Regions from separate parts of the Homo sapiens genome. Here region 2 is linked to region 1. The links come from fine-mapping of genetic effects on gene expression. Tissue or cell type: whole blood. Region 1 holds a variant in brackets; the other region holds the start of a gene. All regions are shown on one strand. Distances are between the middles of the regions.

Evidence for each region. PIP is the estimated chance that this variant, and not a neighbour inherited with it, causes the effect.
Region 2: it holds the start of COL8A2, and the variant in region 1 is fine-mapped to the expression of COL8A2 in whole blood (TOPMed, PIP above 0.99).

The regions. Positions count from the first base shown.
Region 1 is chr1:36,150,035-36,155,343 of GRCh38, reverse strand. It overlaps a transcript of TRAPPC3 not described here. Among named protein-coding and RNA genes, the nearest start is that of TRAPPC3, 3.2 kb to the right of the region's middle. RefSeq lists an enhancer at 5,305-5,309. The variant G/C (reference allele first, on the strand shown) is at 2,809.
Region 2 is chr1:36,122,205-36,127,364 of GRCh38, reverse strand. COL8A2 (collagen type VIII alpha 2 chain) reads left to right here and starts at 2,143. Exons shown (of 4, transcript NM_005202.4): 1 at 2,143-2,308. RefSeq lists a silencer at 4,631-4,831.

The DNA of each region.
Region 1 (5,309 bases):
CTCCAGAATGGACTCCCAGCCCCCTTGTTGGTGCCAGCTGAGGTGAGGGCTTCAAGCCAAGCCAGGCCCAGCCCGGGGCAGAGTGGGGAGCTTGCTGGGAAGGTGGATGGATGATGGTGGTGCTGCTGCAGGGACTTGGGTTGCGGGGGAGGAGGAGGGGCAGCTGTGCCCTGCCCACCCTGGCCCTGCCCTTTGTCCTGACTTCTAGAAGGTCAGTTCTCTAGTTCTTCATTGTCCAGAGATTAGGCCCAGTGAGATACTGTCCCCCTTGCCCCCCTTCCCTCCAGTTTCTCCTTCCTTTAAGCAGCTCCAGAAAGCGGCCATTTGGAGGGATAGAGTGGGAAACAAAAGGGTCAGGGGCTCAGGCAACCTGGGAGCAGCCTGTCCTGGGATGTGTGCGTATCTGGGGGCTTGGACACTCTTGGGAAGGCCTGGGAAGGGAATAGTGTCCCCTCTGGCCCAAAAACATTAGAAAAGGATGATGATAGAAGGGCGGCAACTGGAGCCAGTAACCTTGAGCTAGTGACTTAACTTTTCTAAAATCTAATTTGCTCTCCTACAAAATCAGAAAAATAGTAGTGCCATGAGGTATCTTGGGGTCTTTGTAAAGATTAAATAAGGCAATGGAAATGAAGTGCTGAGCACAGAACCTGGCATCTAGGAAGTGCTCAGTAAACAAGTATAATGGTGATGAAGGCATTGATGAGTAAAAGTGGAAGGACGAGGAGCAGATCCCCCATCTTTGTGTCAGTCATCTTATCTGCAGGGTGGGGGGACTGCGGGGATGACGGAGTTCATGACAGTCCTTTGTGAGGTCAGGGGCCTCACAGCCTGCCTCTTCCAGAGCTGGACAGGCCAGACCTGACTCAGGCAGTGACCAGACTCAGGAGAATTCAGGAACACGTATGGGGAGAGAGCCCTCTGGAATGGTTCTTCTCCCACCTCCCACCCCTTGTCTTGAGATTACTGCAGGGATGGAGATGGATGGATGGATGGATGGGAGTCGCGAGATACCCACATTGGCTACGGCTCAAGACTAGTGGCTGGCTGTGGTGGCTCACACTGTAATCCCAGCAATTTGGGAGGCCAAGGTGGGAGGATCCTTGAAGTCAGGAGTTCGAGATCAGCCTGGCCAACATGGTGAAACCCTGTCTCTGCCAAAAATACAAAAGTTAGCCAGGTGTGGTGGTGGGTGCCTGTAATCCCAGCTACTCCAGAGGCTGAGGCAGGAGAATCGTTTGAACCCCAGAGGCGGAGGTTGCAGTGAGCCAAGATCATGCCACTGCACTTCAGCCTGAGCAACAGAATGAGACCCTGCCACAACAAAACAAACAAACAGCCAAACAAACAAAAGGAATAGTGGAGGTGGAAATGGCAGCTAAAAATGAACAGATAGGCCAGGGACAGCCCACGTAGGAGGACTTGAATGCCAAATGCTTGGAAACAAGCATGGGGAGCTGTTGAAGATTATGGGGTTTTTCAGTAGAGGAAGGGTGAGCAGACTTTAGAACTGGAAATCTATTGTCTTTGGGATTGACTGTGGGGAGCTCACTAAAAAGAGCCCCTGGTATTAGCCTACATCAGGGGGTTCTCAACCAAGGGCAATTTTGCCCCCCAGGAGACATTTAGCCATGTTTAGAGACATACGGCGGTGGGCGGGGGGTGTGTCTCTAAACATGGCAGCTACCGCGTAGAAGCCAGGGATGCTGTTTACCATCCTACATTGCGTAGGACCATCCTCACAATAAGGAATTCTCAGGTGCAAAATGTCAGTAGTGCTAAGGTTGAGGAACCCTTCCCTAGCTTGAGGGTGAGGCACTCACAAGATGTTGGTGCTGGAGACCAGCAGAGCATCTGGGAGTTAGGCAGCTTAAACGACAGTTCTCCTGGCCAGACCTGAAGGTTTCCTGTGCTGCTGATGAGTCCACAGGGAGTGTGCGGAGGATGGCTGAGGAGGGGCCTGGAGAGCACCCGTGTTCCGTGATTGAGGCAGTTGGTGGACAGAGGAAGTGGACTCCTCTCCATTCTCCTCCTCACTGGCCAGGATCCCTGGCAGATTCCAGGCCCCAGCAACCAAGAGGGTTAAGAGTGTCTCTCTCTGAGTTTGGGGCTAGGTAACGCTGCATGGGGCACCACAAATAGACATCCCAGAGAAGGAGCAAGTAGGGTACTTGCTGAAACCCTAACATAAGAGGCTGAAGTCCCAACAGCATTCCCTGCAGTCTTTGGCGAGCGACAGGGACCTCTGGACCAGGGCAGTAGGAGATCGTGGCCCAGGGCAGTCTCCTCCTTCTGCACGGAAACAGGCATGAGTGAGCTGTTCCTTTCACCGCAAGGTTGGGCTGGGGCTGGGGGAAGCCCACAGAATGGGGATCAGAAATATGTTCCTATCCTGGCCAGGCACAGTGGCTCACGCCTAATCCCAGCACTTTGGGAGGCCAGTGCAGGTAGATCACTTGAGCTCAGGAGTTCGAGACCAGCCTGGGCAACATGGCGAAACCCTGTCTCCACCAAAAATACAAAAAATTAGCCAGGCATCGTGGTGCGTGCCTGTAGTCTGAACTACTCAGGAGGCTGAGGTGGGAGGATCACTTGAGCCCGGAAGGTCAAGGCTGCAGTGAGCCATGTTTGTGCCACTGCACTCCAGCCTGGACGACAGAGACCCTGTCTAAAAAAAGAGAGAAAAGATAGTAAAAAAAATCTTTAAAAAAAGAGTATACTAAAGAAATTTTTGGCCAGGCGGGGGTGGCTCACACCTGTAATCCCAGCACTCTGGGAGGCCGAGGTGGGCAGATGACCTGAGGTCAG[G/C]AGTTCACGACCAACCTGGCCAACATGTCGAAACCCAGTCTCTACTAAAAATACAAAAACATTAGCCAGGCATGGTGGCACATGCCTGTAGTCCCAGCTACTCAGGAGGCTGAGGCAGGAGAATCACTTGAACCTGGGAGGCGGAGGTTGCAGTGAGCCAAGATCACACCACTGCACTCCAGCCTGGGCGACGGAGCAAGACTCTCTCAAAAAAAAAGGAGGACAAAAAAAAAAAAAAAAGAAAAAGAAATATGTTTCCATCCTGTTTCCCCGAGGGGAAGAAAGGCAAGGATATTTTCAGCCTCCTAGTTTGGTGGGGCAGGATCCAGGATGAACCTGATGGAGAGATGAAGGAAATCACTGGGAGAGTTAAGAAAATTAACAAATCTCTCAGAACTGAGGCCTTGGATGCTGCTCCCACACCCACAAATTACTGCAGGAAGTGGGAGGGGCCTCACAGTGGGGGCAGAGGAGAGAATAGGCACCCATTCTCACTCCCACCCCAGCCTCAAGGCACTGCCCCAGCCTCAAGGGACTGCAGCAACACGGGGTCTCTAACCAGCACCGGCCTTCCTGGGGGGCCTCAGCTCCCAGGGCCCACTCCCTGTGGCTGGTGATGCCAGCTGCCCCTCCCTGTCCAGCTCTTGGGGAGGCGGGGAACTCAGATACAGGACTAAATAGATTCAACCCTTTGGGTTCCCAGGAGAGAGTCTTTGTCTAGAGCCCCTGATAGGAACAGAAAGCTATCCCTTGTGTTGTTTTCTAGGGAGAAGGAGAAGAGGGTGGTGAGGGGACATCTGGTGTTCCTAAATGTCCTGGCACCTAGAAGTGGTAAGGAGGGTTGGGATTTGGGAATGATGGAAACCATACTGAGAATCCTTGGAACAGCTGTCTAAGGAGTTTTGTTGTTGTTGTTGTTGTTTTGAGACAAGGTTTCAGTTCTGTCACCCAGGCTGGAGTGCAGTAGTGCAAACATGGCTCACTGCACCCTCCACCTCCTGGGCTCAAGCAATCTTCCCACCTTAACCTTCCTAGTAGCTGGGGGCCAGAGGTGCACACCACAATGCTCAGCTGGTTGTTGTTTTTTTTAATTTTTATTTATTTTTGTTAAAAAAGTAAATAAACAAAAGAGTGGCTATTTCATAACAGAACAGCCTTTTTAAAAATTATTTTTTATGGAGATGGGGGTCTCACTATGTTGCCCAGGCTGGTCTCAAACTCCTGGGCTAAAGTGTTCCTCCTGCCTTTGCCTCCCAATGTGCTGGGGTTACTGGCATGAGCCACTGTGCTCGGCCTAAGAAGCCTTTAAGAACCTATCTGAGTGAGGAGGGGATCATATAGATCAACCTGAGATGGCCCCCACCCCCACTGTTCATTCAGGACTAATGACACTGCAAGTCCCAAAGAGAAAGAGACGCCAAGAGGAGGAATCCCAGGCAGAGAGAGGCAAAATCTCGGAGGCTGTTGGACAGGCAGGGAAAGGCTCCACCTCCACTCTCTCTAGAACCGCCCTGCTTGACAGCAGGCAGGGTGGGGTTGGGTGGCTGGCTGTGAGTGTGACTCAGGTTTCTGTGGGCAGCCAAGGGCAGCCGGCAGGGAGGAGCCCAGACCGACAGACCGGCTGGCCAACTGCAGCTTTCACCTCAGCTGTCCTCTGTCCTGGGAATGCAGAGGGCTCTTGTCTAGCTGAGCTGGCCCTTGGGGGCTAGTTGACTCCTGCTTTCCTCCCCCAACCCCAACCAACCCTCAAGTTCCTTCCCAGAGCCCTCGGCCCTTGGCTCCCTCCCCTGTGGCATTACACAGGATGGAGAGTGAGGGGTCACTGCCTCTAGGGAGGAAACAGAATGTCTGGGGAAAAGGGTATAATAATGATTGGTCCTGCACCCTGAGGGAGGGACTGGGGGAACCCTGGGCACCAGCTTGCAGCCTCAGCGGCCCCCCAGCCCTCCCTAGCCTGGCTGGCTCGTGTCTGGACAGGCTGGTTGTCATGGTGAGGGCTAGGGGCCAGAATGCAGCTGCTACAGTCAGGCTACCAGGCCTAAGTGAACAGAGAGTGCTCAGGGACCCCCCAGCCCAGCTTCCTCAGAGTTGACCAGCTGAGAGACCGCGGGAGCTGAAACCAAAGAGCTGTGGTCAGGGACTATAGACTTCCCCTTGGTGATGGGTGAGAGTTCAGCCAGCACATTCCCTTCGTGTTTCTGGTGCCTGTTTGTTGGCTTGTTTTTGGAGGGTGGCTGGAAGGGAATACACGTTTCTTTTATGCCTTTTATGCGCCCAAGTGCTGGGCATGCGTGGCTCACCAGTCTTTACAACAACTGAGAGAGATTTAGCAACTTGCCTAAAATGGCAAAGCTGGGATTAGAACTCAGAACTGACGGCCACGACAGTTAGTGATCTTTGTTTTCTGGGAACCAGGCAGTGTAGCTGTTCTAGGGGGAGGGAGGGGGAGAAAGTGACTTGAACTTTACCTAAAAGACTGGATATTCCATCACGAGGCCACA
Region 2 (5,160 bases), 28 kb after region 1:
AGTGGCGGGGCTGGTGTGTACCTTGGCAGGGGGACAGAAAAGTGGGAGGCCCTCAGAGGGCAGGCAGCAGAAGGGGGAAGGTTGAGGGGGGTGGGCCCTGACCCGAGACAGCCTGGGGCCCTCCCTGCTCCTTTCCTGGACCTGGTGAGGGCTCTGCTCTTTCCCACTGAAAATACACACACACACAGCCACACTCACCCCCACACACAGCCACCCACACCCCCCCACAGACACACAAACACACACACACACTCCCACCCACACTCACACAGCCACACACACCCACACCCACAAACACAGAGCCACACACACACTCCCATCCCCACACACAGCCACACACACACCCATACCCACAAACACACAGCGGCACCCACACACCCACACACACAGACACCCATACCCCCAAACACAGCCCCCCACACACACTCCCACTCACACCCCCCCACACAGCCACACACACAAAGCTACAATACACCCACACAGCCACACACACCCACACAAAGCCACATAGCCACATCCACACACCCAAATGCAGCCACACCCCCCACACCCCCCCACGCACATACCTCCCCACACGCACACAAATACACACCCCCACCCCTCCACACACCTACACACATGCTGACCCCCCACCCATGCGCGCACACACACACTTGCACACCCAAGCACACATACCTCCACATATGCCCACACCCACCTACACGCATGCACACACACACCCAGGCACGCACACACACACACATGCACACACACACACACACACCCACCTACACGTACACACACAGGCACGCGCACACACACATGCACGCACACACACGCCCACACCCACCTACATGCACACACAGACACCCACACTCACCTACATGCACACACGCACACAGACACACACACACACACACCCCAAAATCCTTTCCTGACCTCATCTCCCCTTCCCTCTGCACTTGCTGCCTCCTCCTTTCTCCCCTGCTGCCTGGCTACTGCCCCTACCCCCACCCCAACCTCCAACCCTTAATTGCTGTCCCTAAGAATGTCCTTCTGTGACAGCCCATCCCGTGGGCCTCCCTGGCCTTCTAGAAGCACTCTGCCTTTGCCTTCTGGGACACTGCTCTCCCGGTCCCTGCCATCTTCTCAGTCTCCTTTGCCGACCCCTCTCCCTGGGCAGCCCCGTGAATGCTGATGAGTGTCCTGCCCGCGCCCTGCCCGCCTCCCTGGGCCCGCTCCTTATTCTATGGCATCAGTCGCCATCTGCAAACCGTGGATTCCTCCTCGCTATCCCAGAACTCTCACCTCCCTTCCGGATCCATGGAAGTCCCACAGGCTCATCCAATTCATTACATCCGTCCTCCTTCTTCTCCTAGACCCTGCCGCCCCCAGGCCTAGCCCAAAGCCTGCGCACTGTCCTTGACACTGCTTCTTCCTAGGCCCCTCGCCCAAACTCTGCCTAGTTCGCCTCCTCACTCCCCTCACACTGGGCCCTCCCTTTCCTTCCCCCTCACTGTGCACCTCATGGGACCATGCCAGGGTATTCCCGCAGCCTCCTCGGTGGCCTGCCTCTATCTTCCTCCACACAGCTTCGGGAGGCTCTTTCCAAAGCACACATCTGACCACGTGACTGCCCTGCTCCAGAGCCTTCCGTGACTCCCCATTTCCGAGGGACGAGGTCTGGCCTGCTCCCGCCTGCCTCTGTGACCCCGGCTCAATGCCCTAAAGCCTGAATGTGCGGGTCACGACTGGCCCCTGTGAGTCCTCCGGGCTCAGCCTACCGAGGTCACGTCTGCAGGCAGCCTTCTGGGGACTCCTCACTGGGGGCCACCAGCCCGAGCTGCCCCTTCCCTGCAGGACCACGCCTGGCCGTCCTTCTCAGCAGCCGCGTCCGTCCCCACAGGCAGGTGGCCCCTCGAGGGCAGGGGCTGCGCGGACTCCCCGGCGGCCGAGCCGCGGGTCAGGTGGACGGGGAGGGATGGGGGCGGGCCGCCCGGGAGCGCGTGTGTGGAGGGGGCTCGGCGTGGGTGTCGGGGAGGGAGGCAGCCGTCCGAGTCCGCGCTGGGCGCGCTGGGCCGGGCGGGGCGCGGGCCTTGGCCGTGGCTGTGGAAAGAGGAGGGCGGAGGCCCCGCCCCGACGCGCCCCTCCTGCCGCCCGCCCACTCCGGCAGCCGCGAGGGGCGGCCGGCAGAGCGACGCGGAACCCCGCCGGCGCGGACCCCGGACCCCAACGCCGCCCGCCCAGCCGCGGACGCCCCTGCCCGGAGCCCTCGCCGCCCGGGCCGCCCTCGAGGGCCGGGAGCGGCGCCCGGCGGCCGCGCCCGCAGGTAAAGGCCAGGAGGCGGGCACCGGGGCTCGGGCTGGGGGGCTCCGAGGGCAAGACCTGGGCTGGGCTTCCCCCAACACCATGCGGGATAGCAGGGCCGGCGCCTCGGACTCCGGGGTGGGGACGCGGTGGGGGACTCGGGCCAGGGGGTCGCCTTAGAATGGGGGAGCCCATCCCGTTCCCTGTGCCCCGTTCCCTCCCCGGCAGGATCCCAGTAAAGCCCCCTCCTCCCTTCCTCTCCCAGAAGCGAGGGCTCCAGCATAAGACAGTGCCGGGTGCAACCCCCGACGATGTGGCTCTGGGCGCGTCACCACCTCCCGATCTCCCGTCCCACCTGTAAAGTGGGGATAAAAAAGCCGCCTTCACAGGGTAGTGGAGGAGAGAGGAGGGAGTGAGGGGCCTTAGCATCCCCCCGCTCTCACTCCTGCCCCCATCTCTCTGCCATTGCTGATTTGCTGGAGACCTTCCAGTTATAAGGTTTTTCTGCCTTAGCCCCCAGGTTCCTCCTATTCTAGGTGCCCTGTCAGTCCCCTCGCCCCAAACTGAAGACAAGTTCCCAGGAATGTTCCTGTCAGGGGCTCAGCATCCCCCCAGCTCCAGACTGAGACTTGCAGGGGGTGAGGGGCCGCTGCCTGGCCAAGAGGGACTGGGGTCCCAGGGCCCCAGAACAACCTCCCAGTGTCTCTGCCCTGGGTCTGGAGCCACCCTAGCCCCGGAAATCCTCCAGGTAGAGAAATGCTATTCAGCCAGAGGGCCCAGGAACGCTATTGCCACGGGGAAAACTTTGCTGGTTGTATGTGTGCACGCACGTGTGTGTGCCTGTGTGAGACCATGCTGGGTTCCTGACACAGACGTGCGGCTGACCTCCTTAGGGGTGCCGGAGCAACCAGAAATCATCCCTCCTGTCTGCTATCAGTACCTCTTGCTCAGGCTGGCAGCAGGGGCTCATCCACTCCTCTTAGCAGAGTCCCCTTGGCAAGGACAGCCTCCCAGCAGCTGTACTGGGCATTTGAAAAATCTGGGGGCCGTGGAGCTGGATGGCTGGAGGGTCAGGCAGCCTGGGGTTCCTCTCTGGGGACTGAGCTAAGATCGACTGATCCTTACTGCCCCAAGCAGAGGGGGCCGCAGGGCAGGAGTTGGTGATCTCTGGAGAGACACCATGGTTGGTGGTCTCCATCAGGGCACAGGTGCTGTCACTGGCTTCCCAGTGGACTGGTGAACACCTACAAACCCTTGGACACACAATGACCCTAGATGATAATGAGGAGAAACCACAGACATGCTCACCCAGCCACACACAGCCTTGCACCCTTCTGAGAGCCATGCACAGTCACACACCGACCCAAACATTCATTAGATTCATGCGGACACCCTCCTCTAATGAAACATACACCACCACAAGACACAGGCGGACACATGCACACACACCCAAACTCCTACAGACACATGGCAGGCCCCACGTGGCCCAGCCAGACATACTCAGACAGGACGGCACACACACACATACGCTCACACCCAGACACACTCACCAGGGTCTCTTTCTCTGGTTTCACTTCGTCTACCACAGTGAAAATGAGAATTTCCGCTCTTTGGCTCAGAGGAAGGGGAAAGAAAATATGGAAGTGAATGTGTCTGTTAGCAAGAGGGAGGAGAAAGATACTAAGCAGGGCTGTCAGCCTGAGCCCCTGTACTCCACTACCTTCTCTGCTCCTGCCTGAGCCGGAACAAAGGACGCACAGCCCCAGCTTCCTTGCCCTGCTGGCCCCCCAGCCCGCTCCAGAACTCTCAGTGGCAGGGATGGGGCACCTCTTACAGGGAAGTGGGGTCTCAGATGCGCTGGTCCCATCCGTGGCAGGAGGAAATTATAGTGTCGGGTCGGAGGAACGAGAGAGACACAGCGGCCTCTCCTCTGGGGTGTGGCTGTGGTCTCACGGTGCCCTACTAGGTACCCGAGGAGGGGCACCATGCAAGCCAAAGTGCAGATCAGGGAAGGTGGCACCTAAGAGGTAATCTGGCCAGGGCTTTCGAAGATGATAATTTTGACAGGTGCAGGGGGTGGAAAGGGTGAATGGGAGGGTGTTCCTGGCTGAGGGCACAGCTCGTGCAGAGGTGTGGAGGGGGAAGCTTCAGGGTTCTCTCAGGGACAGTGAGTAATGGGAGTAATGGGCACTGTTGGATCACACTGGGGAGTGGGAGGGACTCATGACTTTGAGGTCAGATTTCTAAGGGCCCTGTCTAGAGAAAGGGTGTGAGCTGCGAATGATATAATCTGGGAATCACTCTGGCTGCTCTGGGGAACAAGGATGAAGGGGGGATCTTCGAGGCAAGGGAGATCACAGAGGAGGCTGGGCAGAGTTTAAGGAGAAAGGTGACGGGGGATGAAGTGGGCGGTTGCCATGGGGATGAGAGGAAGAAGTAGATGGAAAGGAGTAAGCCGGTTGGCGATGGGGCCAGAAGCCTTGCACTGGATGGCTGTGGCCTGTCCCCAGAGAAGGCAGGTGCAGGGGAGATGTGGGTTTGGCGCTGGGGTCTGATAAGTTGAGATGACTGGGAGCTGGAGGCTGAGTGTAGCCTTGAAGCCTGGGTGGGTTTGCGAGGCCATATGTGGACACACATGTGCCCAAGTACCAGTCATGGAAGTCTGACTCCCAGAAAGAGAATTCCAGGCCCACTTTGTTCTGAGGGCATTTCCAGAGTGGGTGGAGTGTGGACAGCAGATCTTGAGTAAGGCAGCATGTGCTGTGTGGAGATGAGCTGGCATTGGGAGTCAGACAGATCTAGGACTTCCCAGCTCTGTGCCTCAGTTTCCCCATCTCTAAAATGGGAATGCTGTACTGGTCTCCAGAGTTGTTT